5 linked regions of the Homo sapiens genome follow. The protein of the gene in region 2 purifies or fractionates together with the protein of the main gene of each other region. This does not show direct contact. Each region holds a gene or a part of one and is shown on either strand. Other genes may lie near its edges. The genes, in order: XXYLT1, MTX2, TPD52, RP2 and CEP120.

The links.
Region 1: the proteins of MTX2 (region 2) and XXYLT1 purify together in Homo sapiens (co-immunoprecipitation; one large-scale study listed by IntAct). This does not show direct contact.
Region 3: the proteins of MTX2 (region 2) and TPD52 purify together in Homo sapiens (affinity purification with mass spectrometry, with the first as the bait; one large-scale study listed by BioGRID). This does not show direct contact.
Region 4: the proteins of MTX2 (region 2) and RP2 purify together in Homo sapiens (co-immunoprecipitation; one large-scale study listed by IntAct). This does not show direct contact.
Region 5: the proteins of MTX2 (region 2) and CEP120 purify together in Homo sapiens (affinity purification with mass spectrometry; one large-scale study listed by BioGRID and IntAct). This does not show direct contact.

Annotation. Positions count from the first base shown.
Region 1 is NC_000003.12:195,066,168-195,071,494, reverse strand, and holds the end of XXYLT1 (xyloside xylosyltransferase 1), read left to right. Parts: intron 1-1,383; coding exon 1,384-1,780; 3' UTR 1,781-3,211; downstream 3,212-5,327. UniProt on the Homo sapiens protein: Alpha-1,3-xylosyltransferase, which elongates the O-linked xylose-glucose disaccharide attached to EGF-like repeats in the extracellular domain of target proteins by catalyzing the addition of the second xylose.
Region 2 is NC_000002.12:176,320,327-176,326,965, forward strand, and holds part of MTX2 (metaxin-2), read left to right. Parts: intron 1-3,065; coding exon 3,066-3,138; intron 3,139-6,498; coding exon 6,499-6,575; intron 6,576-6,639. UniProt on the Homo sapiens protein: Involved in transport of proteins into the mitochondrion.
Region 3 is NC_000008.11:80,037,876-80,044,514, reverse strand, and holds part of TPD52 (tumor protein D52), read left to right. Parts: intron 1-306; coding exon 307-348; intron 349-1,846; coding exon 1,847-1,895; intron 1,896-6,279; coding exon 6,280-6,399; 3' UTR 6,400-6,639. Other genes in the region: TPD52-MRPS28 protein, read left to right, coding at 1,847-1,895.
Region 4 is NC_000023.11:46,845,896-46,852,534, forward strand, and holds part of RP2 (protein XRP2), read left to right. Parts: intron 1-6,639. UniProt on the Homo sapiens protein: Acts as a GTPase-activating protein (GAP) involved in trafficking between the Golgi and the ciliary membrane.
Region 5 is NC_000005.10:123,347,398-123,353,542, reverse strand, and holds part of CEP120 (centrosomal protein of 120 kDa), read left to right. Parts: intron 1-3,453; coding exon 3,454-3,599; intron 3,600-6,145. UniProt on the Homo sapiens protein: Plays a role in the microtubule-dependent coupling of the nucleus and the centrosome.

The sequences.
Region 1 (5,327 bases), on a different chromosome or scaffold from region 2:
CGCCAGGATCAGACTCTTGGCACTCTCTGTGATACGTGAGACCTTGAGGAAGGTTCCTCCGTTCCCAGAAGCGGAGCAATGTGCTGGTGCTGAGAAGTGGCCCCTCAGGGCCACCCTGGGCAGGGTCTCCGGTTTTATTCCCCCGTACCTTCTGCTTCATCACGCAGATCCTATCCTGGGTTTGGGTGGGGAAGTCTCTCTGCGGGGGCCGGTGGGGCAGCATCTCCAGGCTGGGAGGCAGAGCTGGTTCTGCCACGATGTGTCCTCCCCGTGAGGACCCACTCCCACGCCTGTCCCTGCCACAGTGGGCCTCCTGATGGTCCTCCTTCCTCCAGGTCACCGGCACGATTGCTGTGGCCCCTCCTCTGTGGGTGTGGGCTTGGACGCCTCTCCCCTCCACCTGCACACCCCTTGCAGCACACATGAGGCTTAGCTATTAAAGAGGCTGGAGGACAGTGCAGCGCTTTAACCCTGGCCCTCACAGGGAGGTGTCTAGGTCTTTCTTCTCCCCTCCAGATGGAAGCATTTGGGTAGAGGACCTAGAAGAGGCTAACACTCCCTGAACTATGAACCTAGATTGGTTTCTAAATCTGCTGAGAGAAAAATTGAACTTGAAGTGACATTCCTTCTAAAGTAGACATCATCCTACATGGCTCTTCTACAGCTGTCTTTCACCCTAACCCATGGTGTGCCCTGGGCTGTCGCAGGCCCCCAGCCCCTGCCCAGCCTTTCTGAAGTGCCAGGCTTGGGGCTCAATGAATGAGCCTTGTTCTAAAGCAGAAAACAGTTCTGTTCCAGTCAGGGTTCAGCTGCCTGCGTCTTGATGAGATCTCTGTTCAGGATTGTGTCCCCTGCTTCTCTCTCCCTTCTCCTTTTCAAGATCACAGGTGAAGACAAGGGGGTGGAAAGTTCTACCTAGATTGCTGCTATCTTAAGAATGTGGACTTTGGAGCCAGATTGTCTGGGTTTAGTCCCTGCGTCTGCTGCTTACTAGGTGTGTGACTTTGGGCAAATACCTTGACCTCTCTGTGCGTCCGTTTTCTTGGCTGTGAAATGATGTATCATCTCAGAGCACCCATCCCCTGGGGTTGTGTGGGGAGTAAGTAAGCCGGTCTAGTATGGCGCCTGGTACATCCTCAGTCAATAATATCAATGTTGGCTGTGGTGAGGACGTAGCAGAGGATGGTAGAAAGAATCTGAGGCTTGGGGTCCAGAGCCCTGGGTTCAGGTCCCAGCTCTGCCACTTGCTGGTGTAGTGATGCGGATTCTGCACCCCGGAATGTGGCAGTGTTTGCATGCAGGCTGGCTGTGAAGACCCAGGGCAGCAGGCCGGCAGGCTGGTTCCCCTGCACACCGGACTAACTCTGTCCTCTCTCTCCACAGGCACACATTCTGGCAGTTCCGCCATGAGAACCCCCAGACCCGGGTTGGGGGCCCGCCCCCCGAGGGGCTGCCGGGCTTCAACAGCGGGGTGATGTTGCTGAACCTGGAGGCCATGCGCCAGTCCCCGCTCTACAGCCGCCTGCTGGAGCCGGCGCAGGTGCAGCAGCTGGCCGACAAGTACCACTTCCGCGGCCACCTCGGGGACCAGGACTTCTTCACCATGATCGGCATGGAGCACCCCAAGCTCTTCCATGTGCTGGACTGTACCTGGAACCGGCAGCTGTGCACCTGGTGGAGGGACCATGGCTACAGTGACGTCTTCGAGGCCTATTTCAGGTGTGAGGGCCACGTCAAGATCTACCACGGGAACTGCAACACTCCCATCCCGGAGGACTAGGCGCTCCCCGTGCCTTGCCCCCGGGGCCTCCAGATCTGGGGGAAGGACAGGGTTCCTTGGGACAGACCCAAGGGCAGTGTCTGACCCGCTAGAGAGACACCGCAGGGAAGTCCTGTGATTAAGGTGCTGAGACCTCCTGCCGGGCAGGTCACTGTGCTGAGGCCACCCGCCAAGGACTGGCCTGTGCACTGCTGGTGCTTGGGACCTTATTCCTCCAGGGAGCAGGCGACACAAAGGACACGCATGTCCAGTGGGCTGGGAAGCAAGCACTTGAAGAGAAGGAAGGGGAGAAAGGGTCCCCCTTGCTGTCTGCCTCTGAGGAATGGAAATCCTTTAGACCCGGCCTTTTTTGGACCAATATAAATTTAATTTAAATTGACAGCCTTCCATTTTTCGAGAAAGTACAAACAGAACTGCTTTAGCACCCATCGAGCCCCAAACGGGTAAGGTAAGCCAAGGTTTTAATGACCAGCCCAGTATCTAAGCTTCCAAACGAATGCCAGCCCATCACATACTCACCCTGGGAGGCTGCTGCACGCGCATTCTCCTGATGCTCACGTCACTTGGTGTAGGTTTCAGGATCGCCTCTTTGAGGAAGGACTTCAGGACCAACTGGGGCCTGCATAAGAAAACTTATCTCATTATTAGAGTACTCACAGCTTGTATCTCCCAGCTACATCCTAGAACCCCATTGTCCTTTATTCCACCAAACCAGCTCCAGGTGACCAGACTCTACTCAGAAAGCAAATTCGTCATCAAAGAACAGAGACTGGCCACCACAAGGACATGCAGGAGAACTGTCGGGACCAGGAAGACTCATTCCAAAAAGCCCAGGCCGGGCACAGTCGTCAAGCCTGTAATCCCAACACTTTGGGAGACCGAGGTGGGGGTATCGATTGAGCCTCGGAGGTCGAGATCAGCCTGGGAAACACAGGGAGGCCCCCATCGCTACAAAATATTTTAAAAATTAGCCAGGTGTGGTGGCTTGTGCTTGTTGTCCCGGCTACTTGGGAGGCTGAAGTGGGAGGGTGGCTTGAGTCCAGGAGTTCACTGCACTGAGCTGTGATCACACCACTGCACTCCAGCCTGGACGACAGAGTGAGACGTCCATCTCAAAAAAAAAAAAAAAACCAAAAAGGAACCCAGCAATTCCCAAGTGTGACCATGTGGGCTTGGAAGACATGTCACTCATGGGCTAGTAAGCATTCTAGTTTCTTTGTTTAAAAAATCCCCTTATCATACCACGTTAGACCGTAGACCTTAGCAGAAATTAAAGCGTCATTTCTTTTGATGGGGCCTCCTGTACGTAGGCTGCAGACGTGAAAGCCCCAGGGGTCCATTTGTATCAATTTTCATCTTGTTTTGTTTTGATTTCATTTACGTTTTTCTTTTTCCCATGAGTGAGGATAGCCAATAAATCATCTTTGAGAACATGGTGATTCATGTTGTTTGTTCTCTGATCACAGTTTCAGCTGCATGAAGGCTCTGAATCAAGTGTGTACTCAATGCCATTGGAATCCCCACCTCCCCTGATGAAGATGAGTGCTTACAGGAGATCCTAAGGACCAAGGAGAGGGCACATCTGAGAGGGTGTCAGAGAGGGTAGTATTGGCATGTTTGGTTCAAAGCAAGGAATCATTTCATTCTAGGTATTGGCAGGTCCACCTGCACTGGGGAGCAAAAGCATCCCCATTTCTTCTCATCCCTCTTACCCTAGACTGCCCAGTTACATCCTGCCCTGAAGAGGTGGAGCAGATATCTTTCCCAGCCCTCTGCTGTGACAGAATTGGTCTGTTCTCTCACCTACTTGATTTCCTATTTATAGGTAACAATTCTTGAATGCCTGCTGTGCACCAGCCATTGTATTGGGGGATTTATTACGCTATTGATAATGTTTATGAAAACTTCATGAAGGTCATTATGTCTAAAGTCGACTGTAAGAAAATGTGAGAGATGTGGACAGAGTCATATACTATATGTTTATCACATTTTTTATAGTAGAAGAAAATTGGAAGCAACTTAAAATGTGAAAAAGAGGGGCCAGGCGCGGTGGCTCACACATGTAATCCCAGCACTTTCAGAGGCTGAGGCCGGCAGATCTCTTGAGCCCAGGAGTTCAAGACCAGCCTGGGCAACATGGCAAGGCCCAGTGTCTACAACTATACAAAAATTAGCTGGGCATGGTGGTGCACGCCCAGCTATTCAGGAGGCTGAGCTGGGAGGATCACTCAAACCCAGGAGGCAGAGGCTGCAGTGAGCTGAGATCACGACACTACACTCCAGCCTGGGGGACCGGGCAAGACTCTGTCTGTCTTTAAAAAAAAAAAAAAAAAAAAAAAAAAAAGAATGGAATAGGTAGATGAATAATATGCTTCATCCATATAACAGAATACTTGAGGCATTATTCGAAGAATATGTAATGCCTCAGGAAATACTTAGAATGTGCTATTAAATAAAGAATGCAAAATGTAAGATCATATGTTTAATACGATCCTATTTTTAAAATTACATATATGTGTATGTATATCAGTGTACACACGTGTGTATAGATACATACCTACACACACACGTATGTATAAAAAGAGCATCTATTCTGCTGTATTTCAACTTCTAAAAACATAGGTGTTTCAAACACCACATTAAAAAAACAATTATTTCAACGGGAAAAAAGTGAGTTAAAGGCTAAAGAATTTTAGACTCACAATAATAAAGGTATTTTCCCTGCAATCCTTTCTATAATTAAAATGTGTCTATAGCTATGTGTGTATTTTGTTGTTGCAAGAAAAAAACAATAAGCTGGTTGGTCAAAATGGGCAAAGGCCAAACAACATCCCTCATTTACTTTTAAGTAAACCTCTCAGGAGCTTCCCCTCTGTCACCAGTGGCCTCGACCTTCCAACCCCCCAGTGCACAGCAGACTGTCACTGCACAGGCACCCCAGCCCACCCACAGATCACACCCCAGCCCGCTGACAGATCACACCCCAGCCCGCTGACAGGTCCCACCGCAGCCCACCAACAGATCCCACCCCGGCCCGCGGACAGATCACACCCCAGCCCGACAGATCACACTGCAGCCCACCAACAGATCACACCCTGGCCCATAGACAGATCACACCCCAGCCTGCTGACAGATCACCACATAGGCACCCCAGCCCGCCGACGGATCACCACACAGGCAGCCAGCCCACCGACAGATCACTCCACAGCCTGCCGACAGATCACACCCCGGCCCACCGACAGATGACTTCACAGGCACCCCAGCCCGCCCACAGATCACCGCACAGGCACCCCAGCCCGCCCACAGATCACACCCCAGCCCCCCGACAGATCACCGCACAGGCACCCCAGCCTGCCCACAGATCACACCCCAGCCCGCCGACAGATCACACCCCAGCCTGCGGACAGATCACTGCACAGGCACCCCAGCCCGCCCACAGATCACACCCCGGCCCGCCGACAGATCACTGCACAGGCACCCCAGCCCGCCCACAGATCACACCCCAGCCCACTGACAGATCACACCCCAGCCCGTCAACAGATCACAC
Region 2 (6,639 bases):
TATTAATTAGCATAGTTACCACTACGCATGTAGTTTAGCAAAATATACTATATTTACTATTTTATACAATATTATTATTAACAGTTGAATATTATTCAGGCCTTTGAGAAGATATATTAAACAGTTATTTCAAACTCTTTTTTGTTCTACTGAAGGCCTCAATCCCTTCTTAGTTTTTCATTCTCAGCAAAAGATTTCTCCTTCTATTTCGTAAAATATGAGCACTCACATTCTTGTTCTTTCTTATCAACTTTCAGTCATCATCACTGATTCCCCACCACCTCTTGCATTACAGTGGAAAAAGTGTCCTGTTCTGACAAAAACAGATCTCTCCAGCTAAGGTCTTACTTCCTCCCTTTTTACTTATTCTTTTTTTTTTTTTTTTTGAGACAGGGTCTTGTTGTATTGCCCAGGCTGGAGTGCAGTGGTGTGATCATGGCTTACTGCAGCCTTGACCTCCCAGGTTCAAGCAATCTTCCCACCTCAGCCTCTTGAGTAGCTGAGACTAAAGGTGTGCACCACCATGCCCAGCTAATTCTTTAAACTCTTTTGTAGGAATGGGTTCTCCCTATGTTTTCTAAGCTGGTCTTGAACTCCTGGCCTCAAGTGGTCCTTTTGCCTTGGCCTCCTCAAAAGTGCTGAGATTACAGGTGTGAGCCACTGCTTCTGGCCACATGGATCTTGTATATCAGTTATTTCACTTGTTTTATGTAATTTCAGCCTATCTCCATTATTTTTTTTCTCTTTGTGTTTTAATAAGCTCCACTCTTCTTCATATGTAATAGAAGGGAGGCAACTCTTCTCCTCCCTTCTTCCTTGTTTTCAGATCCAGGCTTTTTGAAAGAACTGTTTATATTCATTTTCTCTAATTCTTTCCATGCAAGCCATGCTTTGACATGATTTTGATGCATGCTGAAGTTTGAGAATCACCACCCTACCCTATCTTTGTGGGTCAGTCAGGAAGCTCACTATTATTGCTATGAATTGGAATCACTGGTTATAGGTTTTAAAGGACCGTTAGTTTCCACTTAAATAGACACAGAAGAATCAACTTCTGGTGGGGCAGGATGGTGTTTAAACTTAGAAATCATAACTGTAGGTGAATTAATTAAGATTGGATTTGGCAGTGAGTGACAGAAACCCAATATAGTGGTAGCTTAAAAAGGTAGTTCACTTCTCGGACAAACACGGGTAATCCAGGTTTGGTGACTACATGATTATCAAGAACCTGGGCCCCTTTACTCTTGTTGCTCTACCATTTCTAACACTCAGCTGCTACTTCATGGTTCTGTTTGGCTGCTATAGCTATAGCCATCCTTTTTACATTCTAGTCAACAGGGAGGAAAAAGAGGAGATACTTTCTCCTTTTAAAGAAACTTCCCAGCAGTTGTCCAGAACTTTTAGTCCAGTTGGCCATACCCAGTTGTAAGGGAGCCCGGAAAATAAGTTTTTATTTTAGGCAGCCTTGTGTGCAGATAGTTTCTACCACTGTAGGGAAAGGAGAGAACATATGTGGCAGGGATAACAGCCTCTACCAGGATAAGCTCTTGGGAGCTTTGAATGGCTCAATCAGTAAACAATATTGCTTATTATAAGTAGTGCACTATGAAAGATGAATTGTGGGAAAATGAGGGAGATTGGGGGAAGGAGAACAGAATTGAAAAAAAAAATTAAAAATCTCCCCCTTGCTTTTCTAAGAGATGCCATTTACTTGAGGAGATCAGACATGCATACATAAGTTACAGAGCAATGTAAGAATCAGAGGATGCAATTAGTGGGGGAATCAGACTCACGTGGGATTTATTTTTGGAGGCAGGCATCTCTAAAGGACTGGAGTTTTGAGAAAACAGAAGAGAATTGACATACTTTTGGGTAAATGGAGTTCTTTGTACAAGATATTAATCACTGTTTTGTACCCTTAACACTTAAGAGTCTTAACACTTATTTCTAATGTAGAGTTGAGGAAGGAATTATAATAAACCTATGAGAAATCTCTGTTGAGTAAAATGATAAATAATATCCTTGTTAATTTATTAATTTATCTTATCTTACTTTTGACAGCTATTTATAGTACTTTCAATTTCAAAATAGACAAAAGGTTTGTCTTCCAATTTGTATGTGGTAATTAGAACCATTGTAACTTATGACCTCCCCAATTGAATAACTGAATTATTTTATAGAAATAACATAGTAAATTTTGTGAATAGAGAAAAAGAAGCCAAGAAGTCATAGAAGAGAGAACAAGGGGAGTGGACTTTGAGTATTGTAAAAAACAGTGGGTTTGGCAGAGTTCACTGGTGTCTTAAAAACATTTAAAAATGAATTAGTGTGATCTAGTAATAGAGTTTTGCATTTTTTTACTTAATATTATAATGTGTACATTTTTTCTTGATGTAAAATTTTTTCTAAAGCATGAGTTTTAAAATTGATTGTGTATAGCATTCCATAGTTTGGATTTACTATAATGATTTACCCCATACCCTTATTATTAGACATTTAAATTGCTTATAACATTTTTGTAACTATGAGCAAAGATAAACAATTTAAGTCTTTAAAAAGTGAATTCGTGAGCACAGAAACTACATGTTGGAATATAGGGTATTACTGGAGAGAACTTTGAGGTAGCAGAGATAGTATTTTGAGTTTTCCTCTAAAATGAGGAAGATGATGATCCTATAGAAAATAGTGGAATGAAGCAATTAATAGCTTATAAAATTTGGACTTTAGTCATCTACTTAAGAAAATTAAAGCTATATATATAGTATTGCTGGTTTACATAAACTAATACAGTAACATAAATGTGGATAATTTACATTTTATTCCTTAGGTATACATACATACTTTAAGTTTCATGTATTTACTGATGTCTAAATCATACTGATTTTTAAGTAGTGACATGACATTTTTGTTTGGAAAACAAATCCTTCACTTTAAATTGGTTCATTGTTTTCTATTAGAGTTTTGTAGTATGAAACTATTCAGTTTAGAAAAGAAATGCATACAAATTTCTGTTCAAATATGCATATGCTTTTTACTGGGCTTATTGTATGTATCTTGATTTACAGGCCTTTTTGCAAATGTGTAACTTGCCTATCAAAGTAGTTTGTAGGGCAAATGCAGAATATATGTCTCCATCTGGTAAGTGTGTTTTTTTTTCTTCTCTGTTAATATTATGGAGTGATAAAATTATAGTGATAGTCCAGTTTGTATCTACATGTTAAAATGCCTGATTTTTTTTGTTTACCCTTTGAAGAATCTTTCCATGGTTTTAGAAAGTAACAATTGCAAATTTGACAATCTTGGGGTTGGCATATCTATTCATTTCAACTGTGATCAGAGATGGTTACTGACGTGTGGAAATGGTTTTAATAGTAAGGGAATTGTTTTAAATAGTAAATGTTAAGGAAATACATGATCTCAGATTTCCCTAGTCTTAATGTACATAAGACTTTCCTGTTGAGAAAACAAATTTTAGTAATAATGAATCCATTTATTATTCCACACATCTTTCTTAATTATATTCTCCCATAATACAGCTGGAAGAAGAGAGATTGTAGAAAAATTAATTTGTCGTTAGATCTTGAAGTCATCACTGAATGTTTTTGGTTTCTAATTATTTTTTCTAATGCTTAATTTTAACAGGTTTTGAGATGCTTTAGCTTCCTATTTTTTAAAATCAGTATTATCTTTATGTCAGTAGATTAAATTACTGTTTTAAATAAATAATTCAAAATTTTTAATATAAAAATGTGCTACAAAGCTGATAAATAAATGTTATATATAATTATCATGGATGATTATTGTAATTATGGTTTTGTTGGAGCAATAATACGTAGAATTACTCCTTTTTGAATAAATTATTAAGTATAACTGATTGGTATAAGTGTGTAACATTGCTTTTTAGGGAGACATTTTTCATTTTGATATGATAATTTAGGAGTGACTTGTGTTAAATTTTTTTTTTCCACCTTAAGTTTTTAAGGGTGGTAGAAATTGTTAAAAGGTATGAAGACACCCCTTCTGTACATAATGTTCTTTTATATAAATACCTGGTTTTAGAGGTTTATGAATATACATTTAGAAAACATTTCCATAAAATAATTTCTAGGCTTGTAAATGTAAACATATTTTAGATTCTTGGAGGGCATTCATTGACTCATTTTTGTGTTGGTTTTATACGTAGATTTTAGGAACTACAGAGTTCTGGTGAAATAAGTTATGTTGTGTTTTGTCCATCCTTTTCCTCTATGTAGTCATACAAACAGTTTGTATATTTATGTAAAAAGGTTAGAAGGTTAGTAATCTAATGCTAAAGTTCAGATCTTTGGCAAGTGAGATATCAATATAGTTTATCTACCTGTTTCCTAAAATTACTATACTTAGTGTCATTTAGGTAGATACCTATTTTCTTTTTATTAGATTGCGCGAAAGACAAACATAAATATTCTAGAGACATACAAAAATATACATTCTTTCATAGGAGTCTCCTATAGGTAGATGAAAATGGCACTTTCTACTAAGATATTTAAACTTTATCATATCTCAGATTGGTATTCTCTTTCATTTAATGATTTGAGGTGATAGGGAAATGTTTTTTATTGTATTTGCTTCTTTGATCTTGCGGTAGATTTTTAAAGCAGAGAGCATGGACTAGTCAGAAGACCAGTTGACTTAAACTCTTATTTCCTAAAGAGTTAGGAAATCTTTAACTAATCCTTCTGTGACTTTGTCACATATTAACTATTTCCTTGAGAAATTTCACTTCTCTGAGCCTCAGTGACTTCATCTGTAATATAAGGTAGCCGGATTAGATGACATCCAAGGTCCTATTTCTTGCATTCTTTGAATCTGCCAACTTGTTTGGCAACATATTCTTGCTTTCTTTAGAATAAAAATTTTAAAAGTGATTATTCTGTCTAAGACGGTAAACAAAGCCCTCAGTTTTCTTATATGACCTTTGATTCGCACCAGAAAATAACTGTCTTACTGTGTTTTTGCCTGATACCTGCAATAATAAGGATATAACATTGGCTCCATTTTCATTAAGCAGGCTAGTGACAGAAAACATTATTCACTTCTAATTTGTTGTGTTTGTTTTTATATATCTCTTTATATTTAGAGATATATAAGATTAATACTCAGTTGACTATCCACACTTCTTTTTGCTTCAGAATTGACAACGCTCAATGTATTTTTAAGAAAAGAAAAAAAATACAAACCCTTTTTTCCAAGAACCTGAAACTGGTCATTAAAAACAAGGAATATGCTTTGCTCTAAAAATATTATACCCCCAAATACTGTTTGTCTAGGTACTAAATAGTTTTCATTCTCAGATCATTTGATCTCAGGGGACCTGTAATAATTCTGGTAGTATAGTAGTTACAAAGATTTTATCCCGAGTTAAGAAAACAATGTGGCCTAATGCTTAACCAGATAAAAAAATTTTTTTTTGCAAGATTTATAAAGCAGTAGAAGGAAGGAATGCAGAATTGGCAACAGGGAAATATCTTCTCAATACATCTATTGAGTTGTTGTGTTCCAAAAGGCCTGCCTTTTCTTTGTAATGCATGTTGTCCTATGGATGCAGTTGAAGCTTTTGTTAGGCCTCTGTACTTCATCCATTACCCCCAGGCTGACGGAGCCAGAGAGGAGTGAATCTATTGAAAAGGAACAGGAAGAAGCCTGCTGTTAGTGTGAACTCTATTTGAACTAGGTGTGACAGCAGGTTTCATTCTTTAGCATTTGGAGTAGACCCTTCTTGCTATTTGGAGATTATTTTGTTCTCTCATCTCTAATAATTCCAAGTATTAGTATTTGTTAAAGTGAAATATTTCTTTTTTAATGTGACATTTATCTATAGAAGCTAGTTTTTATAAACATACTATTATTTTTTCCCACATGTTGGGAACATACTCTGTATTACAACTCACCAACTAGCATGCCTTCAAAGATTGTTAATTCTTTTAATTCTTGCTATTTTGAGTTAAAGAGATTTATTGATATACAATTACTTGCTTAAAATGTTGATCTCAATGGGTATCAAAGACTTAAAAGATGTAAAAAGGTTTTTTAAATGTAGTTTACAATATAGATTGATTCACTGTACTCTGAAAAGAAAGCTTACATTTCTTTGAAATATATCAGTGGTCATGTACCAGTGTCCTGGCTTGGTTCATGTAATTTGGATAATTAGTGTTTGCTGCTATATGGTGATATGTTTGTGTTGGCTCTGAAAAGAGAATGTTATGTGATCTGTTATTATATCTAAGTGAGAACTCTAGAAATGAATTTACCTGTTCTTTTTTTCTAAAGTTGGTTAGTAATCAGTTTAAAAACTTACAGAATTTAATATACACATCTGACAAAAATTTTCAAAAGTTACAGTTTTATGAAATCCCTATTTATAAATACCTGAGTTTTGTGTTAATTTTTTTTAATTATCACAAACTTTAACATACTGGAAGTATTTTTATAAATACTTTTTTTTTCTCTCAACAGGTAAAGTACCTTTTATTCATGTGGGAAATCAAGTAGTATCAGAACTTGGTCCAATAGTCCAATTTGTTAAAGCCAAGGTAATAAAAAGATATTAAATGTATTTGATCAGTTACCAAGTCATTCATCATTCTTTAATGTGTC
Region 3 (6,639 bases), on a different chromosome or scaffold from region 2:
CCTACGGTAACTCATTTAACACCTATATGCCTTACAGCTCCGGGTGAAAGCACTTTAGTTTTCAAAGTGCTGTAAAAATGCAAGGTGGTATTGTTAGCTCTAGTAACTCCTGGGAATTAATTGGCTCCTGAATAAAAGTAAATTATGTTGGAATAACTTTGATCCCCTCCACCTCAAAAAGTAGGTAATTCTTCATGGCGCCAAGAGAATAAAGCTCCTGGGGAGCTAAGTTTTGTCAGCTTTTAATAATGTTGAAGCACCACTATACTAACCTTATTTCTATCTCTTTTTAATGCTGCCTCTTAGTATACGTTCCATTCAGCATTCAATTAGCATGCCTGCTATGAGGTAAAGTATATTTTTATGAAATGTAGTTGGTCTTATGCTTTATTTTTCTTTATTTAGATGTTTAACTTGAACTGTTCTGAATTAGGGAACTAGAATTCCCCTTGAAACAAGCTGTGTGTTTAACACTCTATCAGTTTTCAGCTACACTTCCTCTGATGTTGGGATGGGTGCAAGAGATCCGTTAAATGTTTTGATTTTGTTTTTAAAAAAATTATTTCTATTTTATTTTGTAAAACCTTTGTTTCCTGTCTGAAATCTGTTCACAAAGTGAGCACTACTTGTTAACAAACCTTCTTTTGTCCCGCCACCTCTGTCTGCATTCGCTTTAGTTACATTCTCCTTTTCTTCATCCTTCCCATTTTCACTTCCCCCATCCCACTGTGACATTTGGAGCCAACTATGATTTAATTCTACTATCTGCTTTCATTAGCACTTGCAAGTGATATTACCTCACCTAACCTCTCTAGAGAGTTAGAGGATTTTTAACAATCTGTGCTTGGCTTAAACTTAAGTGTCCATCAAAATCACTTGGAGTGCTTGTGAAACCGCTGCTTGCTGGGCCCCACCTCTAGAGCCTCTGATCCTGTAGAGTTGGGGTGGGACCTGAAAATTGGCATTGCTTATGACTTCCTGATAGCTGCAGCAGCAGCTGGTCTGGGGCCCACACTTTGAGAGCTGTTGGCTTAACTGTTCTGCCATCACCACCGTGGGAAGGAAGAAACCCCTTTTCCTTTCTTTGCATTTTTCATCTTGGTAGTAGGAAGGATATTCAAGGTCAGTTGGATAGGATAACAGCATTGGAAACCCTGTTTCCAAAGCGCCTTTGTGAGAGACAAAGGCGCTATGATCCTCCTTAATTAATATGGATAGATGTGAATGTAACATGGATGAATGAATGTCCTGTGGGCTCAGCGTGCTCTCCTCATCCTTTGGGACAGAGTTGTGAAGTAGGCAAAGCCGTTTCTATGCTTCTCCCCCTTCTTTTTGGTCCCTGCTTTCCCAGTCTATTATGCTGCTCCCTGATATTGAACCTCATAAGCTTGTCCCACTTAGGTGATGTGTGTTCATGTAGAAATTCTGCCAGGGAAGATGTGAATCAAAATAGGGATTTTAGAGCGTAGTACCTTAACCAAAATTAAACTGATCTAATGGTGGCATTTTCTTGTACCATGACAAGTTGGTTGGGGAAGTGACAGAATTGCTATTTTACCCGGCTTCGTTACCTCTCCTTACACACGTACTTGACCATATCTATATTACTTATGTCTGAGACTGGCCCTGTTCATGGAATCAAATGCATACTCTTAAAATATTAGATCAGAAATTGAGAATCTTACATTATAAATACTTGTATGTACCTGCACATATATGGTACAGATTATATCTGTTCTTTTGCCGATTGAGAATAATGTTGAAGAGGAATCAATTATATTTTCAAACTAGTTGGATTTTTTTTCAGTATTTGTATTTACTATTTGTTTTTCTTTTCTCTCCATAGAAACTCCCCAACTTTTAAATCATTTGAAGAAAAGGTCGAAAACTTAAAGGCAAGTAGAGAGATGAACAGGGTCTTTTTGATACATTGCCTGGTGTCTTAATTAACTTTGCTGTGCGAAAATCATTGACATTAATATTTCTTTCTAAAAATATCTAAAGAATGTAAATAACTTTACTCCTTATGTTACTAGTGGACATTTAAGGTGTTATGTACTTAATATCTTTTTAGTGTATGCTGTAGTGTGGCAGCATGCCACATGCTGAAAGGAAATGTACAATTTACAAAGAAATGGCACTTTAGAAATTTGTGCTGCTTTTTGCTTTATTCATTTCAAGTACCTTTGTAGGTGGACAAAATTTAATATAACTTTCTTGTCAACAATTAACAAGAATATAGGAAGCACAAGAAAGAAAACAAAAAATTGGTCCTACCACTCAGACAGTGATAGATGTATGTGCTATTATGCTGTTACGCTTTAAAAAAGAAGTAGCCATACATCATAATCATTTTCCTGTATCAGTAAGTATTCTCTTTCAATATTATGTGCAATGGCTGCTTGTATATTACTTTTTTTTTTTTTGAGATGGAGTCTCACTCTGTTGCCCAGGCTGGAGTGCAGTGGCGTGATCTTGGCTCACTGCAACCTCCACTTCCTGGGTTCAAGCGATTCTCCTGCCTCAGCCTCCCGAGTAGCTGGGACTACAGGCGCGTGCCACCACACCCGGCTAATTTTTTGTATTTTTAGTAGAGATGGGGTTTCACTGTGTCAGCCAGAATGGTCTCCATCTCCTGACCTCGTGATCCGCCCGCCTCGGCCTCCCAAAGTGCTGGGATTACAGGTGTGAGCCACCATGCCTGGCCTGTATTACCTTATAATGGATATTATTTGTTCAGTCCTCAATTGTTGGACATTTTTTTTATTATAATGATGCCATGATGATCGTTTATGATTCACTGTTTTTATTTTTTGATTTCTTTGATTTTAGTGGAGGTGAACATTTCCCCATAATAATGAGCTTTATTGATTTGTAAATTATATTATCTTTGAGATTATATTCAAAGCTATAAAATCATCAACTCTTAGGATCACAGGCAACCTCAAAAGTTGTCTAGTTCCCATCTATTCCTCGACCCTCTCTACGGAGTTTGTATAAAACCCATATTTTCATTACTTCCTAACTCTGATAATTATAGGGGATATATTTTAAGGATTAAAACTAGTATCTTAAATGTTTTTATATCAGTCAGTTTAAAAACTAATATTCAGTTTAGTCTTTCAGAACTTTGAGTCACGAAATGCATCTTTAAAAGCAGGGTACATTTATTGAAATAAAACACTCTACAGTGATCTGGATCTTTTTTTAATTTATTTTTTTATTATACTTTTAAGTTCTGGGATACATGTGCAGAATGTGCAGGCTTGTTACATAGGTATACACGTGCCACGGTGGTTTACTGCACCCATCAACCTGTCATCTACATTAGGTATTTCTCCTAATGCTATCCCTCCCCTACCATCCCACCCCCTGACAGGCGCCTTGGTGTGTGATGTTTGGATCGTTTTTTTTCTTGAACATACAAACGTTAGTACATACCTTTTCTGTTTGTATGCAGACATATGAATGTTTTTTCAGAAGAGGAGTTACACTGTACACACACAGTCCTACAGCTTATTCATTCAGCCCTCACTAGCAGGGTGCTTTGTGAGCCATAAATGCAGGGACCTGTTCTTTTTGGTCACTGATACTTCTCAAAGGCTTAGAACAGTTCTTGGCACATTGCTCAATATGCATCTGATGAGTAACAATATATATAAGAGTCATTCTTCTATGTCATTTCAAGAGACCTGCTTTATTTTTCTTAGTGCCAAGTCATATATTTGAAAGCAAACTGTAGTTGCAGGAAGTCAAGGATTACTAAAATTCAGTTCTCAATATTGTTAGGACTGTTATAGCCTTTCCTTGAAATCTGCCCCAAGTGTTAATTTTTGAAATGGCAAATTGGAAAACCAGGAATCTTATGTGTTTTTGACATTGGACATGAGGAGAAACTTCCAGGTCATTCACTATATACTCTCCTGAATATATTTAGATTCTATAAATTGTAATGAAGTCTGCTTTAAAATATGACTAGGCACCATTCAGATTAAAAAGTGTAATTTAAAAACATACAATATGTTGGCTGGGCGCAGTGGCTTACACCTGTAATTCCAGCACTTTGTGAGGCCAAGGCAGGCAGATCACTTGAGTCCAGGAATTTGAGACCAGCCTGGGAAACATGGCAAAACCCTGTCTCTACCAAAAACGATAGAAAAATTAGCTGATGTGTTGGCATACACCTGTAGTCCCACCTACTCGGGAGGCTGAGGTAGGAAGATCGCTTGAGCCCGGGAGGCAGAGTGAGCAGCGATTATGCCACTGCACTCCAGCCTGGGTGACAGAGCCAGACCCTGTCTCAAAAAAAAAAAAAAAAAAAAAAAAAAAGGATAGCGTATTAAACAGATACCCCAAGTATCCTAAGGAAGCTGTAAAATTACATGCTGGGGATATAATTTTGTTAAATTACATTTATATTTAATTAAACATGAGGTCCATTTAGATTTTGGGTTGATTCATTCATCTGTGATTACTGAGCATTTGCCATGTGCCAGTCAATCAGTATTAGGCACCAGAGTTACCACAGTGAGCAAGAGAGACATGGACCCCTTCTGCAAGATGCCTAGACAATTAAATGGCCAATGAAACTAAAGTGAGGTAAGGGTTCTGATGTGAAAAGCTGAGGGTGTGATGAGGACAAGTGGCAGAAAGTTCACCTGGCTTGGTGGAAGGGAAGGTCAGAGAAGACCTCTTAGAGGACTCAGTAATGTCCATTGAGGATTTTAGGTTGAAGGGAATGTTTGAAGTTTGAGGGCCCTTTTGAGGACCACCAAGAACTTCACTGTGCTGTAGGATATTGAGCAGGAGGTGAAGCTAGAGAGATGTGTAGGCCACATTGCAGAGTTTGAACTTGGGGCAATGGGAAGCCATTGAAGGGTTTTAAACAACCCAAGTGGTGCATTCTTCTGTAAATGTTAGAGAGATCAGTGGCTGCCCTGCACATCAAAGGGGAGAACGATTGGAGACAGGCAGATTAGATGGAAGGACGGAGTTGTACTCCAAGCCAAAGATGATGGAGAGTGAATTAAGTTAGTGCAATGGGACCAAGTCTAGAGCTATTTAGAAGTGAGAAGTGACACGGAAAAAAAAAAAGATTGATTGGATGTAGAACAAGTTGGATAAGAATCCAGGACAACCCCAGGTGTCAGGCTGGGGCAGCTAGGTAGGTGCTATTGCCATATAAAGTGTTAAAAAAGAATAGAGAAGGGGCTAGTTGTCGGGGGAAGGAGTTCAGTTTTAGACATGTTGAACTGCAAGGAGATTTGATACTATAATTAAGGAATGTGTTTTAATAAATTTAATAAACAATGAACACACATTATTCGCATTTCCCAAACAATTTGGATGGTAGATCAAAAAGAATGAGAGTGAAAATAAGGGGTCTGTGACCACTCAATTAAGATTGAGCTAAGAGCAAGGTCAAGTTCAAACCCACTATAAGCTTCTTGCATCCATGGTCACTGACTGTTTTCTTACTGTTAGCTGTCCTGTTGGACAGTGTAACAGTGAGAGAGCATATACAGATTAGCATTGAAAAGGATAAAGTGACATGTGTAAGGGTTTTGAAAAAGTATTATACAAATGCAAGGCAGATATATTGAAATAAATGCTTATTGGCAAAATTTCAGGCCAGATAGGTTGGAGTAGTGCTTCACAAACTATAATGTGCACATGAACAACTCAGGGATTTTGTTCAAGTGTTGATTTCAATTCTGTAGCTGGAGTTGGGTGGGGTAGAAAGGATATCTGAGATCCTGCATTTCTAATAAGCTCCCAGGTAATGTTGAGTCTGTAGGTCCTTGAACCACACTTTAAGTATTAAAGGGTTAGAAAGCTTATACTGTAACTGAGAAAAAAACATATATTTCTTTCCCATGTTGTATTCAATATTTCTTGAATGAGTGTAGCTAAATGAGCAATTCGATGCAATACAAAATGTTATGCAAGTGTAGAGACAGACAGTTCACTAGGTACTTTAAAATAATAGACCTTACAAAGTTTTCTAGACAGACTTCCTGTGAAGAACAAGGAGCAGGGGGAAAGGGGAAGGGGTAGAATTTACCAATCTGAATATTTCAGCAAGGGAGAATGCATGAGTTTTACTATAAAACCACACTGAACATTGCAACAATACTAAATTCCATACATATATAATAATCACTGAGCTATAAGGTTGCTGATGTATTTGTTCTTGAAAGTGAATTAGAGTTACTTTATGCAGAATCAGCTAGTTTTATGTTTCATAATGTCTTTCCCTTTTTTGAACTTTTTTTTAAGTCTAAAGTAGGGGGAACCAAGCCTGCTGGTGGTGATTTTGGAGAAGTCTTGAATTCGGCTGCAAATGCTAGTGCCACCACCACGGAGCCTCTTCCAGAAAAGACACAGGAGAGCCTGTGAGATTCCTACCTTTGTTCTGCTACCCACTGCCAGATGCTGCAAGCGAGGTCCAAGCACATCTTGTCAACATGCATTGCCATGAATTTCTACCAGATGTGCTTTTATTTAGCTTTACATATTCCTTTGACCAAATAGTTTGTGGGTTAAACAAAATGAAAATATCTTCACCTCTATTCTTGGGAAACACCCTTTAGTGTACATTTATGTTCCTTTATTTAGGAAACACCATTATAAAAACAC
Region 4 (6,639 bases), on a different chromosome or scaffold from region 2:
GAGACAACAGGCGAGTGCCACCATACTCAGCTAATTTTTTGTATCTTTTTGGTAGAGATGGGGTTTCAACACGTTGCCCAGGCTGGTCTTGCACTCCTGAGCTCAGGTGATCCGCCCACCTTGGCCTCCCAAAGTGCTGGAATTACAGGCATGAACCACCACACCCAGCCGGGAGTTCCTTTTTAATTGCTGAGTGGTATTCCGTTGTATGGATATATCACAGTTTGTTTATCCATTCATCAGTTAAAGGACATTTGGGTTGTTTCCAATTTTGGTAATTATGAATAAAGCTACCATAAATATTTGTGTACAGGTTTTTGAGTGAACATAAGTTTTCATTTCACTTGGGTAAATACTCATGAGTGGGATTGCTGATCATATGGAAATTGTTTATTAAACTTTACAAAAAACTGCCAGGTCAGTGGCTCACACCTGTAATCACAGCACTTTGGGAGGTGAAGGCAGAAGGATCGCTTGAGGCCAGGAGTTCAAGACCCGCTTGGGCAACATAGTGAGACCCCACCTCTACAAAATGGATAAACATAGCCAGGCAGAGTGGCATATGCCTGTAGTCCCAGCTACTTGGGAGGCTGAGACAGGAGGATTGCTTGAGCCCAGGAGTTTGAAGCTGCAGTGAGCTCTGATTGCACCACTGCACTCCAGTGTGGGCAACAGAGCAAGACCCTGTCTCTATAAAAAAAAAATTAATTAAAAATTTAAAAAAGAAACTGCCAAACTATTTTTCAAAGTGGCTATGCCATTTTGCCTACCAGCAGTATATGAGAGATACAGTTGCTCTGCATCCTCACATCACTTGCTTGGTATTGTCAGGTTAATTTGTTTTTAAGAGACAGGGTCTGCTCAGTCTCCCAGGTTGGAGTACAGTGGCATGATCATGGCTCACTGCAGCCTGGACTGCCTGGGCTCCAGCAATCTTCCCACTTCAGCCTCCCAAGTAGCTAGGACTACACTACATGTGTCTGCCACCACACTCGGCTAATATTTTTATTTTTTGTAGAGACAAGGTCTGGCTGTGTTGCTCAGGCTGGTCTGAAACTCCTGGCTTCAAGCGATCGTCCCACCTTGGCCTCCCAAAGTGCTGGCATTACAGCTGTGAGCTACTGCACCTCGCCTAGCTTTAAAAAAAAATGTTTAGCCATTCTAATAGGTGTGTAGTGATGTTTCATTGTAGTTTAACTTGCATTTCCCAAATGACTTGTATTTACCTAAATGTTGAGCATTTTTCATGTACTTATTTGCCATCCATATATCTTTGGTAAAATGTTTATTCAAATCATTTGCCCATTTTTTTATTGGGTTATTTGTTTTCTTATTATTGAGTTTTTCAGAGCTCTTTATATGTCCTGGATACAAGTCCCCTGTTATATATATGTTTTGCAAATACTTTTTTCCCAGTTAATAACTTGCCTTCTCTTAAGAGTGTCTTTTGAAGAGCAAACATTTTCAATTTGAGTAAAAGTCCAATTTCCACTCACTTTTTCTTTTGTGGATTGTGTTTTTGGTTTCACATCTAGGAATTTTTTTTCTTTTTCTGAGACGGAGTCTTGCTGTGTCGCCAGGTTGGAGTACAGTGGCGCGATCTCGGTTCACTGCACTATATGTATATGTATGTATGTATGTATGTATATACACATACACCATATATATGTGTGTATATATATACATACATATACAAAACAATTGCTTACTAGATGCACAAATCAATGGAATAGAGAGTTCATAAACAGGCATATCTCTCTTTACATATATATATCTATATCGATCACACTATATATATGTGTGTGTGTATATATACACACATATATGTGTGTGTGTATATACACACATATGTGTGTGTGTATATACACACATGTGTGTGTGTACATACACACATGTGTGTGTGTATATATATACACACATATATGTGTATATGTGTATATATGTGTGTATATATGTGTATATATGTGTGTGTATATATATACACGCATATATATGCGTATATACATATATATGGACTCATATATGTGTATATACATATATATATATATATATATATATATATGGACTCACAGTGTGTCCTTGGACAAGTTATATAGTCTCTGTGTGCCTCAATTTTCTCAAGTATAAAACAGAGATAATTATAGTACACAACCCTTATGGGGTTTTTATGGATTGAGTGAATGATTATAGAGCACTTAGTATGGTGCCTGGTACATATATAGTGCTTCTTATACTCCTGAATCTTTTTACTTCTATTCAGACTGGATTTTCATTGGAATTAACAAATCCCATTATTTTATCTCACATTATCATTATGGAAATTTAACTGTGGAGATGAATTTTAATGAAAAATTTGTATTGCCGCTTAGTAAGATAATAAGATGTTCATTTTTGTTTTCTGTTAGGAAAATAATGCTTAACTTGGTTTAATAGCTGTAGGACATTAAATTGATATCAGACGAATTACAACTCTTGAAATTTTTCTTTGATTTTTTTTTTTTTTTTTGAGACAGAATTTGGCTCTTGTCTTCCACGCTGCAGTGCAGTGGTGCGATCTCGGCTCACTGCAACTCTGCCTCCTGGGTTCAAGCGATTCTCCTGCCTCAGCCTCCCAAGTAGCTGGAATTACAGGCGCCCACCACCATGCCCAGCTAAGTTTTGTATTTTTAGTAGAGACGGGGTTTCACCATGTTGGCCAGGCTGGTCTGGAACTCCTGACCTCAGGTGATCCACCCGCCTCGGCCTCCCAATGTGCTGGGATTACAGGCGTGAGCCACCACGCCTGGCCACTTTCCTTGATTTTTTAAAGTATATCCATTACCTTTTAAGGATTGTAGTAAGAAATAGTCTAGGCCAGACACGGTGGCGCATGCCTGTAATTCCAGCACTTTGGGAGGCTGAGGTGGGTGGATCGCTTGAGTCCAGGAGTTCGAGACCAGCCTGGACAACATGGCGAAACCCCATCTCTACAGAAAATACAAAAATTAGTTGTGCATGGTGGTGTGCACTTGTAGTCCCAGCTACTCAGGAGACTGAGGCGGGGAGGATTGCTTGAACGGTGGAGGTCGAGGCTGCAGTGAGCTGTGAGTGTGCCACTGCACTCCAACCTGGGCAACAGAGTGAGACCCTGTGTCAGAAAAAAAAAATACAGTCTAAACTAAACTCACTTCATAAGTGGCTCTTAGGAAAAAATAATTTAAAACATGACCTTTCCATGTTTGTGATTCTAGACACTTTATTTCAGAACTAGTAACCTGCAAAATTACGAAGGATTTCAGTTTCAGTTGTTTATTATTACTTTTTTTTTTTTAAAGTGTCAGGGTCTTGCTTTGTCACCCAGGCTGGAGTGCAGTGGCATGATCATGGCTCACTGCAGCCTTGAACTCCCAGGCACAAGCAGTCCTCCTGCCTCAGCCTTCTGAGTAGCTAGGACTACAGGCGCACACCACCATGCCCAGCTAAGGGTTTTTGTGTTTTTTTACCCCCCTTCCACCAACTCACTTCAAATAATCTGCTAAGTTTTAAAAAACTTTTTTAGAGCTAGGGGAGTGTCACTGTGTCACCCAGGCCAGTCTCAAACTCCTAGTCTCACTAGGCCACTGGCCCACTCTCAAGTAGCTGGGATTACAGATGTGAGCCACTGTGTCTAGCTCCTAATGCTTTTTGTTTTGAAAAACTTTCAGGAATTGTTGAGAAAGTACAGCAACATAAATCTTAAATTTCTCCTTGGAAGGCCGTGCTGACAATCCAACTAATTTTATACTACAGAACTATTTAGCTATAAAATCTTTAGCTATCAGATTAATTTCTCCCTATGAGCTAGGAAAAGTGGAGCGTCCAGAGAAAATACTTAGGGTAGTAAATTACATTTAACTCCTCAGCATTGGCAGCTGTTATGGACTGAATGTTTGTCAAATTCATATGTTGAAGCCCTACCCCCCTACACATGGCTGTATTTGGAGATGGGACCTCTAAGGAAGTAATTAAGGTTAAGTGAGGTCATAAAGGTAGAGTGCTGATCTGATAGGATTAGTGTCCTTATAAGAAGATTCAGTTAGCTTGCACTTGCTCCCTCCCTCTCCTTCACACAGAGGACAGGTCTGGTGATGACATAGCAAGAGGTTGGCTTTTGCAGTCTGAGCAGACTAAAACAGGCTGCCATAACAAAATACCACAGACTGGTGGCTTAAATAACAGAAGTTTATTTCTCACAGCTCTAGAGCCTGGGAAGTCCAAGATCAAGGTGCTAGCAGATTCAGTGTCTGGTGAGGGCTCTCTTCCTGGCTTACAGACAGCTGCCTTCTTGCTGTGTCCTCACATGGCCTTTCCTCTGTGATTCATCCTTCTGCCTTACCTCCTACAGCCATTGAATTACCAGTCTGCTGATTCTGTTTCCTCAGTATTTCTCAAATTCATCCCATCTTCTTCTTCCCTACTAATTACAGCTCTGGTTCCAGCCCTTTCTGTATGACTACAATAGTCTCTCCGATCAATCCATGTTGCATGTGTCCTTATCTCATCAGAGTAATTATCCTGACATGTAAATTTTGCTTATTTAAATCTTTCTGTGGTTCCCTCTTGTCTGTGGATAACTTCTAAGCTTTATATAATACGGTTTCTGCCTACCTCTGTAGCTTCATCTACTAGCATTCTGATAGCATGTGTAACACCAAACTACTTTCAGTTTTCCTCCTACTCCCTGAAGAATTTTACTTTGTTCCGTCTGTTACTTTTGCCTGGCATGGGAAGGGAGGGTCCTTTATTCCTACCCCTTTTACCTAATGAGCTCTAGCTTATCCATTCTCATGTTTTGCAGAACTTCCGCCCCACTTCTCTTCCCCGCCCCAGATGTCCCTTCTCTGTCCCCTCCAAAATATTCTCAGCATCTCTCATTACATGGTCAAGTTGTTTTTAGTTTAGATGAATGTTTACTTTTATGGAAAGAGCTGGTCCTATTCATTTTAGTGCCTAAAACAATGTCTGGCTCATACTGGGTATTCAAATATTGGTAGAGTGACTGAACATCCAGAAAGTTAAGGGGATTTTTTCAAGATCCGGTTGCTTATAGGGGACAAAATTGGGACTGGAAAATGAGTACTTCTTTTATTGCCTCATACTGCAGACCAGTGTTCCTCCTAGTACAGCATGTAAAACTGGCTAAGTACAATATCTATTGTGCAATTACTAAGTCAATTTAAGCTCATTTGCTAATCATTAAGATGATTAAATTTTGCTTTGTAAATCAAATTTTTACATATTGTATATATGGGAGCCTATGGTGCATGAATGGTTTTGCATGAAGTTTATATAGTCACAAACAGTTAAAACAGTTGAAGTAGATAAGAAAGTCACATGGAAGAAACAAAAATAGGCTTTTAGTGACCATATTTTGATAGGTCAGGTAAAATAAAAAAAATTAATGTGACATTTTCCAGGCATACTGTTTAAAAGATTATGTGGGCCGGGCTCGGTGGCTCACACCTGTAATCCCAGCACTTTGGGAGGCCAAGGCAGGCAGATCATCCAAGGTCAGGAGTTTAAGACCAGCCCGGCTAACATGGTGAAACCCCATCTCTACTAAAAATACAACATTAGCTGGGCATGGTTGCACACGCCTGTAATCCCAGCTACTCAGGAGGCTGAGGCAGGAGAATCACTTGAACCCGGGAGGTGGAGGTTGCAGTGAGCCAAGATTGCGCCATTGCACTCCAGCCTGGGTGACAAGAGTGAAACTCCATCTCAAAAAAAGAAAAAGGCCGGGCACGGTGGCTCACGCCTGTAATCCCAGCACTTTGGGAGGCCGAGGCAGGTGGATCACAAAGCCAGGAGATCGAGACCATCCTGGCTAACATGGTGAAACCCCATCTGTACTAAAAATACAAAAACAGGGGCCAGGCGTGGTGGCTCACGCCTGTAATCCCAGCATTTTGGGAGGCTGAGGCGGGCAGATCACGAGGTCAGGAGATCAAGACCATCCTGGGTAACACAGTGAAACCCCATCTCTACTAAAAAATACAAAAAATTAGCCAGGCATGGTGGCGGGTGCCTGTAGTCCCAGCAACTCGGGAGGCTGAGACAGGAGAGAGCCGAGTTCATGCCACTGCACTCCAGCCTGGGCAACAGGGCGAGACTCCATCTCAGAAAAAAAAATACAAAAACAAAATTAGCCGGGTGTGGTGGCAGGCACCTGTGGTCCCAGCTACTTGGGAGGCTGAGGCGGAGAATGGCCTGAACCCAGGAGGTGGAGCTTGCAGTGAGCTGAGATTGCGCCATTGCATTCCAGCCTGGGCGACAGAGCGAGACTCCGTCTCGAAAGAGAGAGAGAGAAAGGAGGGAGGGAAGGAAGGGAAGGAAGAGAGGAAGGGAGGGAGGGAGGAAGGAAGGAAGGAAGTAGCGAAGGAAGAAAGGAGCGAAAGAAGGAGTGAAGGAAGGAGCGAGCTATAGTTTGGAAGATCTAAGAATAGAAATGGCCAAATTTGAAAAATTGCGTTGTAGCTTAATAAATGCTTGAATCAAATTTGCTTGCATTTACATATTGTGATTCTTGTGCCTTCAGGTTCTTCTGTTTTCTGTAGCATATTGCAGAAATCAGTTGGGGTTTAGAAACTGAGACCATACATTGATTTGAAAAAGGATAGA
Region 5 (6,145 bases), on a different chromosome or scaffold from region 2:
AATGGGAAGTGAAAAATGCTTACTTTTTTTTTAATGAGACTAGCATAACCTTGATCCTAAAAGCTTACAAGGACAAAATTAATTGGCCAGTCTTTTAAAACATTAAAGATACAAGTTTAAGATATTAAACTTGTAAGCATCACAACGAAGTTTATTTACTAAACAAATGCAAGCTTGGTTATTTACCACATTCAAAGATTAAAGGAGAAAAAAATCATATCAATAGCTGCAGAAAAAGTCATATTCATTAACAAACTAAGACTAGACAGGAAATTTGTTAATCTAATAAAGAGTTTTTACATAAAGCCTACAAAAAACATTCTTAAAATAATGGAACTTTCTTCTGAGATCAGAAATGAGAGAAACCTTCCCTCTATTACCGTTTCTTTTCAACATTGTATTAGAGGTGTTCTAGCCAGTGTAATAGGGCAAGAAAAAGAAATACTGTATCATTTGGAAAGGAAAAAATAAAACTACCCTTATTTGCAGATAACACAGATGTATTTAGAGAGCTAAAAAGTATCTACATTGACCTATTAGGAATAAGTGAGTTTAGCAAGTTTGCTGGAAACAAAGTCAGTGTGTAAAAATCAATGTTATTTGTCTACTAGAGGCAATTAGGAAGTGAAAATTGTAAAGCTCTACCATCTAAAATATAATCAAAGAAATATGTTAGTCTTAGCATATAGAGAACTATAAACTATTATCAAAAGACCTACATAATTAGGTAAACCATTCCATTGATTGAAAAATCAGTATTTTAAAGACACTGGTTTTGGCCAAATTGATCTGTGGATTCAATATAATCATCATAAAATCTCAGCAGGTTTTTTTTAGCCTTAGAAATGGAAATTTATGTGAAAATGTAAGAGCCAAGAATAGCTAAAATCATTTTGAAGAATAAGCAAATGTAGAAGAACTGTCGTATATTGAGACATTGTTACAAGAGTTACAGTAATTAAAACAGTGTAGTGTTAATGTAAGGATAAATAGATCAGTTTAGAGCATCCAGAAACAAAAACATACATATATGGACAGAGGTGATATGTGACAGGTGATAACTGCCAAGCAACAAGAGAAGAGGTGTTTTTCAATAAATGTTGCTAGGTCAGTTTGAGCTCTACATGGGCAAAAAGTGAAACTTCAAAAGGGTAACATAAAAGAATATCTTCAAGATTGAGACAGGCAAAAAAAATGTCTTAAATAGGAAAGAGCACGGTTAACCAAAAAGGAATAAACAGAAAAATCTGAACTATGTTAAAATTAAGGACTTCTCTTTATTAAAAAACATTAATGGAGTAAAAAGACAGGCCGAAGACTACTGGGAAATAGTTGTAATTTATATAATTGATGAAGGGCTTATCCAGTATTTATAAACATCAATAACAGAAGATGGACAACCAAGTAAAGTACCAAAAGCTTAAATAGGAACTTTATGAACAAAGATACCTAAATGTCATTAAAACTATTGAAACGTGTTCAACCTCACTGGTCTTTGAATAGTGCAAAATAAAATCACAATGAGATACTACTATGTAACCTGTCAAATGGCTAAAATGAAAAAAAATGACATTATGAAGTGTTGGCAAGAATATAAAGCATTGGAATGCTCAAGTGGAAGTATGAATTGATAAGACTACTTTGCAAACTGTTTGGAAATACAGGTTGAACATCCCTAATCGGAAATGCTTCAAAATCTGAACTTTTTGAGCCCTGACAGGACACCACAAGTGGAAAAATCTACACCTGACCCTATGTGACAGTTCACACAGAATTATTTAAAACATTGTGTAAAACGTTATGTAAAATTACTTTCAGGCTGTGTATACAAGGTATATGTGAAACATAAATGAATTTCATGTTTAGATGGTCCCATCCCCAAGATATCTCATTATGTATATGCAAATATTTCAAAATCAAAACACTTATGGCCCCAAGCATTTCAGATAAAGGATACTAAAACCTCTATTTACTAATGCTGTTGTAATTCTTATATCCTCTGACCACGCAATTTGAAGCCTATGTATATATCCAGTAGGAATGCATACAAATGTGTTCCAAAAGACATGTATAAAATCTTCACATCACCATTATTTATAATTCAAAACTGGAAACTGCCCAATGTCCTTCAGCAGTGGAATGAATAAATTGTATATTCATTCAATGGAATGCTGTATAATAATGTAAATGATTAACTACAGAGAACAATGAGTCTCAAAAACAATGTTAAATGAAAGAACCCTGACACAAATACATACTGTATAGATTCTGTGTTAAGTTCAAAACTTATTTTTGTTTTTAAAATTAGGGTAGTAGTTATTGTTGGGAAAAGGTGAATGGTTAGTGACTGGGAGGAGACACAGACTTCTGGGATTCTGGCAGTCTGATCTGGATGGTGGGTATGTGAGTGGTCTACTTTGTGAAAGTATATCAAAATGTACCTTGTCATTTGGCAGTTTTCTGTTTGTTACAATTCAATAAATACTTTAAAAAAATAGTTAACAAAAACCTATTGACTCAGGTCTCCCACTTTGGGATTCTGTCCTAAACAAAAGAAAATGACGTAAGGATTCCTGAGCTAACTGTGTGATAGATGACAAGGTGTCCTATTACAGCATTGTTTGTAGTAGCAAAAGTGTCTGTTATTGAGAAAGTGGTTGAATAAGTCATGGAATATCCATTATGTGGAATGTTACTCATTTATTTTAAAAGACTTTATCTATTGACCTGAAGAATTGTTAAACTTTTTTAAAAATGCAAACTAGAATGTATTGTTTGTTTTCATTTTTGTTTAAGAATATATGTGCATAGGTTTTTGTATGAGTCTGGAGAACAGAGTGGAAAGGCATATTTACTGAAGTAGGAGTGGAATTAGTGATTTGTATAGGGACAGTTATTGAATTTTTCTAGGTACATCTTTGTATAATGTTTTTCTCAGATGCTGCTCTTACCACTAGCCTTTTGGCTGTTCATTGTATTGACAGTTCATTGTATTGATAGCACCCTCTTTCTTGCCTTCAACTTCCGTTGTCCTGTGATAGTCAGCTAATATCAATCACTGATTGAAGGATTATGACTTATAGTAAAAGAGAATAGAGTGTTTAGAGAAAACCTAGCTGGGTATTTCTGGTTAATATATAACTCATAAAATTAGCAGTGCAAGGGTGGGCACACACCTTGGGCCCAGATACTCCTACTTGGGCCCAGAGGCCGAAGCAGGAGGATTGCTTGAACCTAGTAGTCTGTGGCTGTAGTGTGCTTCGTTGCTCCTGTGACTAGCCAGTGCACTCCAGCCTGGGCAACACAGTGAGACTCTGTTAAAAAAAAAAAGAATTGGCAGTGTGTGGCTATATCATGGGTGTTGTCAAATAGGATTATAATCACAAGTCAAAGTCATATAAAATATTTGTTCCTAATATTAAGGATATGACTTGTTTCTTTGTTTCTTTCAAGAGGGAGCAAGAAAGTCAAATGGCTCGTCTTAAAAAACAGCAGGAAGAATTGGAACAGATGAGACTACGTTACCTTGCCGCTGAGGAAAAAGATACAGTAAAAACCGAGCGACAAGAATTGTTGGATATAAGAAATGAATTGAACAGGTATAATAACTAAAAGTGTTTCTTTCAAAAGCCAAAGTTTGGTTCAGGGAAGGTACAACTTGAGGTCTCCCAAGGATAAAGTAGATCATATATAAAAATATATAAAATGTAGCAGACATATACAATAGAAAATCTATGCCAGCTGGGTACTGTGGCGCATGCCTGTAATCCTAGCACTTTGAGAGGATGGTGGGAGGATCGTTTGAGCCCAGGAGTTCCAGGCTGCAGTGAGCTGTGATCATGCCACACTGCACTCCAGCCTGAGTGACAGAGTGAGACCTTGTGTCAAATCTAAAAAGAAAGAAAAAAAGTCTATGCCAAAGACTATTAAACTTTTTTTTTCCTGTGAATACAGCTATGGCAAGTCCATTCAGCTCTTGTGTTTCCATTTATAGCATTACTACTTTAAAATTTATTTTTGTGTGATGATATCAGGATTATTGCTACTATTAAACTGAGTCTTCACTTATATAAAGTATAAGAAATTTCAAATTTTGTTATATTATTAATATCTGTAACAATAGCTCTTAATGAGCTCTTACTTTGTGCCAGGAGCTGTTTTAAATGTCTTATATTGCCCGGCCCTTTTTTTTTAAATCTTCAAAGCTACTTTGTGAGGAAGATATTTTCACCATTTTCAAGATGAAGAGATTGAAGATTAAAGACAGAGCTTAAACATTATTCAAGATCATGTAGCTAGTAAATCATGGAGCCAGAGTTCAGATCCGATTCCAGAGATTGCATTTTAACTACTGTGCTACACTGGGCTTCTCTGTAGTGCTGCGTTCATCTGAATCACAACTTCAAGTGTTTCATGTTAGAAAAGTAATCACTAGGAAGCAGCATAAAAATGAATTCTAGTCTTTTTGGAGGGTGGTTTTGGGGGAAGACTTCTTAGCTTAGTTTATCAAGGGTCTAGTATATTTTTCTTTGAGCAAAGTGCAGTTTTAGTTAACTTGGACTGGTTAAAAAAAAATACCACAGACTGGGTAGATTAAACAGAAGTTTATTTTCTCACAGTACTAGAGGCTAGAAGTCAAAGATCACGGTGCCAGTGTGGTTGGTTTTAGAGACCCACCTTCTCACTGTGTCCTCTCTCTGGTGTCTCTTCTTAGGAGAGCACTAATCCCATGATGAGAGTTCACCCTCATGACCTCATCTAAACCTGATTGTCTCCCAAAGGTCCATTTCCAAATACCATCACATTAGAGGTTAAGGGTTCAACATCTGAATTTGACAGGGACACAGTTCAGAGCCTACACATTACATTTAAAACAGTATCTTATTATATCTCCATGTATGAAGTGGAGAAAAATGTGGTCACTATATTAAGTGGGTTCCTAGCTGAATTAAATAACTATATTTAAAAGATAATTGAAGAAATACCAGTTGCAAAAGGTCAGCTTTAAGGACCGTGCTTAACAGCATTCAATCTGTGGTACTTTTATTCTCATTTATTCAGGAAATATTTATTTGGTATCTACCATGTTGTAGACTTGGAAGATATTACAAATTAATGAATTATAATATCCTTGCCTTCCAAAATATAGCACTTTCTTGGTTCTAGTTTAGCAAATATATATTTAGCTCCTGCTGTTTGCTAAGCACTGTTTTGGTGGGTTAAAGATATCCATGTTGCCTATCAAATTTGTAGATCATATACAATTGAATCTTACTAATGTCTTAATAAATTAGGATTCTGAGAGAACTGAAACCAACAAGATTAAATATATTAGAGACAAAAGCAGAGTCCTCTGTATAAGCTATAAGAAAAATCACTTAAGTGATAGATAAGATATAAAACAGTTCATGTGAAGAAGCCTAGGAGAACTTACGTGGCCTCTAATAATGGTGTGATTTGGCTACCGAAGAGTCAGTGCAGTTAGGGACGTTCATGGAAGTAGTGTTCAGTATTCAGTACTGGTAAATCACCTCTGGGGTGTTCTTACCACTGTGCAACACACTTTAAGGGAAATCAGCTACCTAGAGAGCTTCCAATGGCATGTGACCAGGACAGTAAGGGGCAATATATCATGCCATCCAAGAAGTGGTTAAGAGAGTGAGGGAGTTTGAGACCAGCCTGGAAAACATAATGAAATGTCGTCTCTAAAAACAATATATATATACAAAATTTAGCCGGGTGTGGTGGCATGGCCTATAGTCCCAGCTACTCGAGAGGCTGAGGTGGGCAGATCCATTGAGCCCAGGAGGTCGAGGCTGCAGTGAGTTGTGATCACACCACTGCACTCCAGCCTGGGCGACAGAGTGAGACCTTGTCTCAAACAAACAAAATATACTAAGTATTATTATTACTGCTCCAGTTTCAAGACAGTTTGATCAACAGTATTCTATTGGAAATACCCAAATCGCAGGTCAGCATCTACTCTCCTTTTCTTATCCCCAAATGAGATTATAACAAACATAACTTGAAGATATCCATACAAAACCTTAACATGCATATGCCCTTTGAACTAGGCATATGTAAAGAATTTCACTTTCTACAAATAGAGATACAACTCAACTCCATAATAGTAGGGAATTTTTTT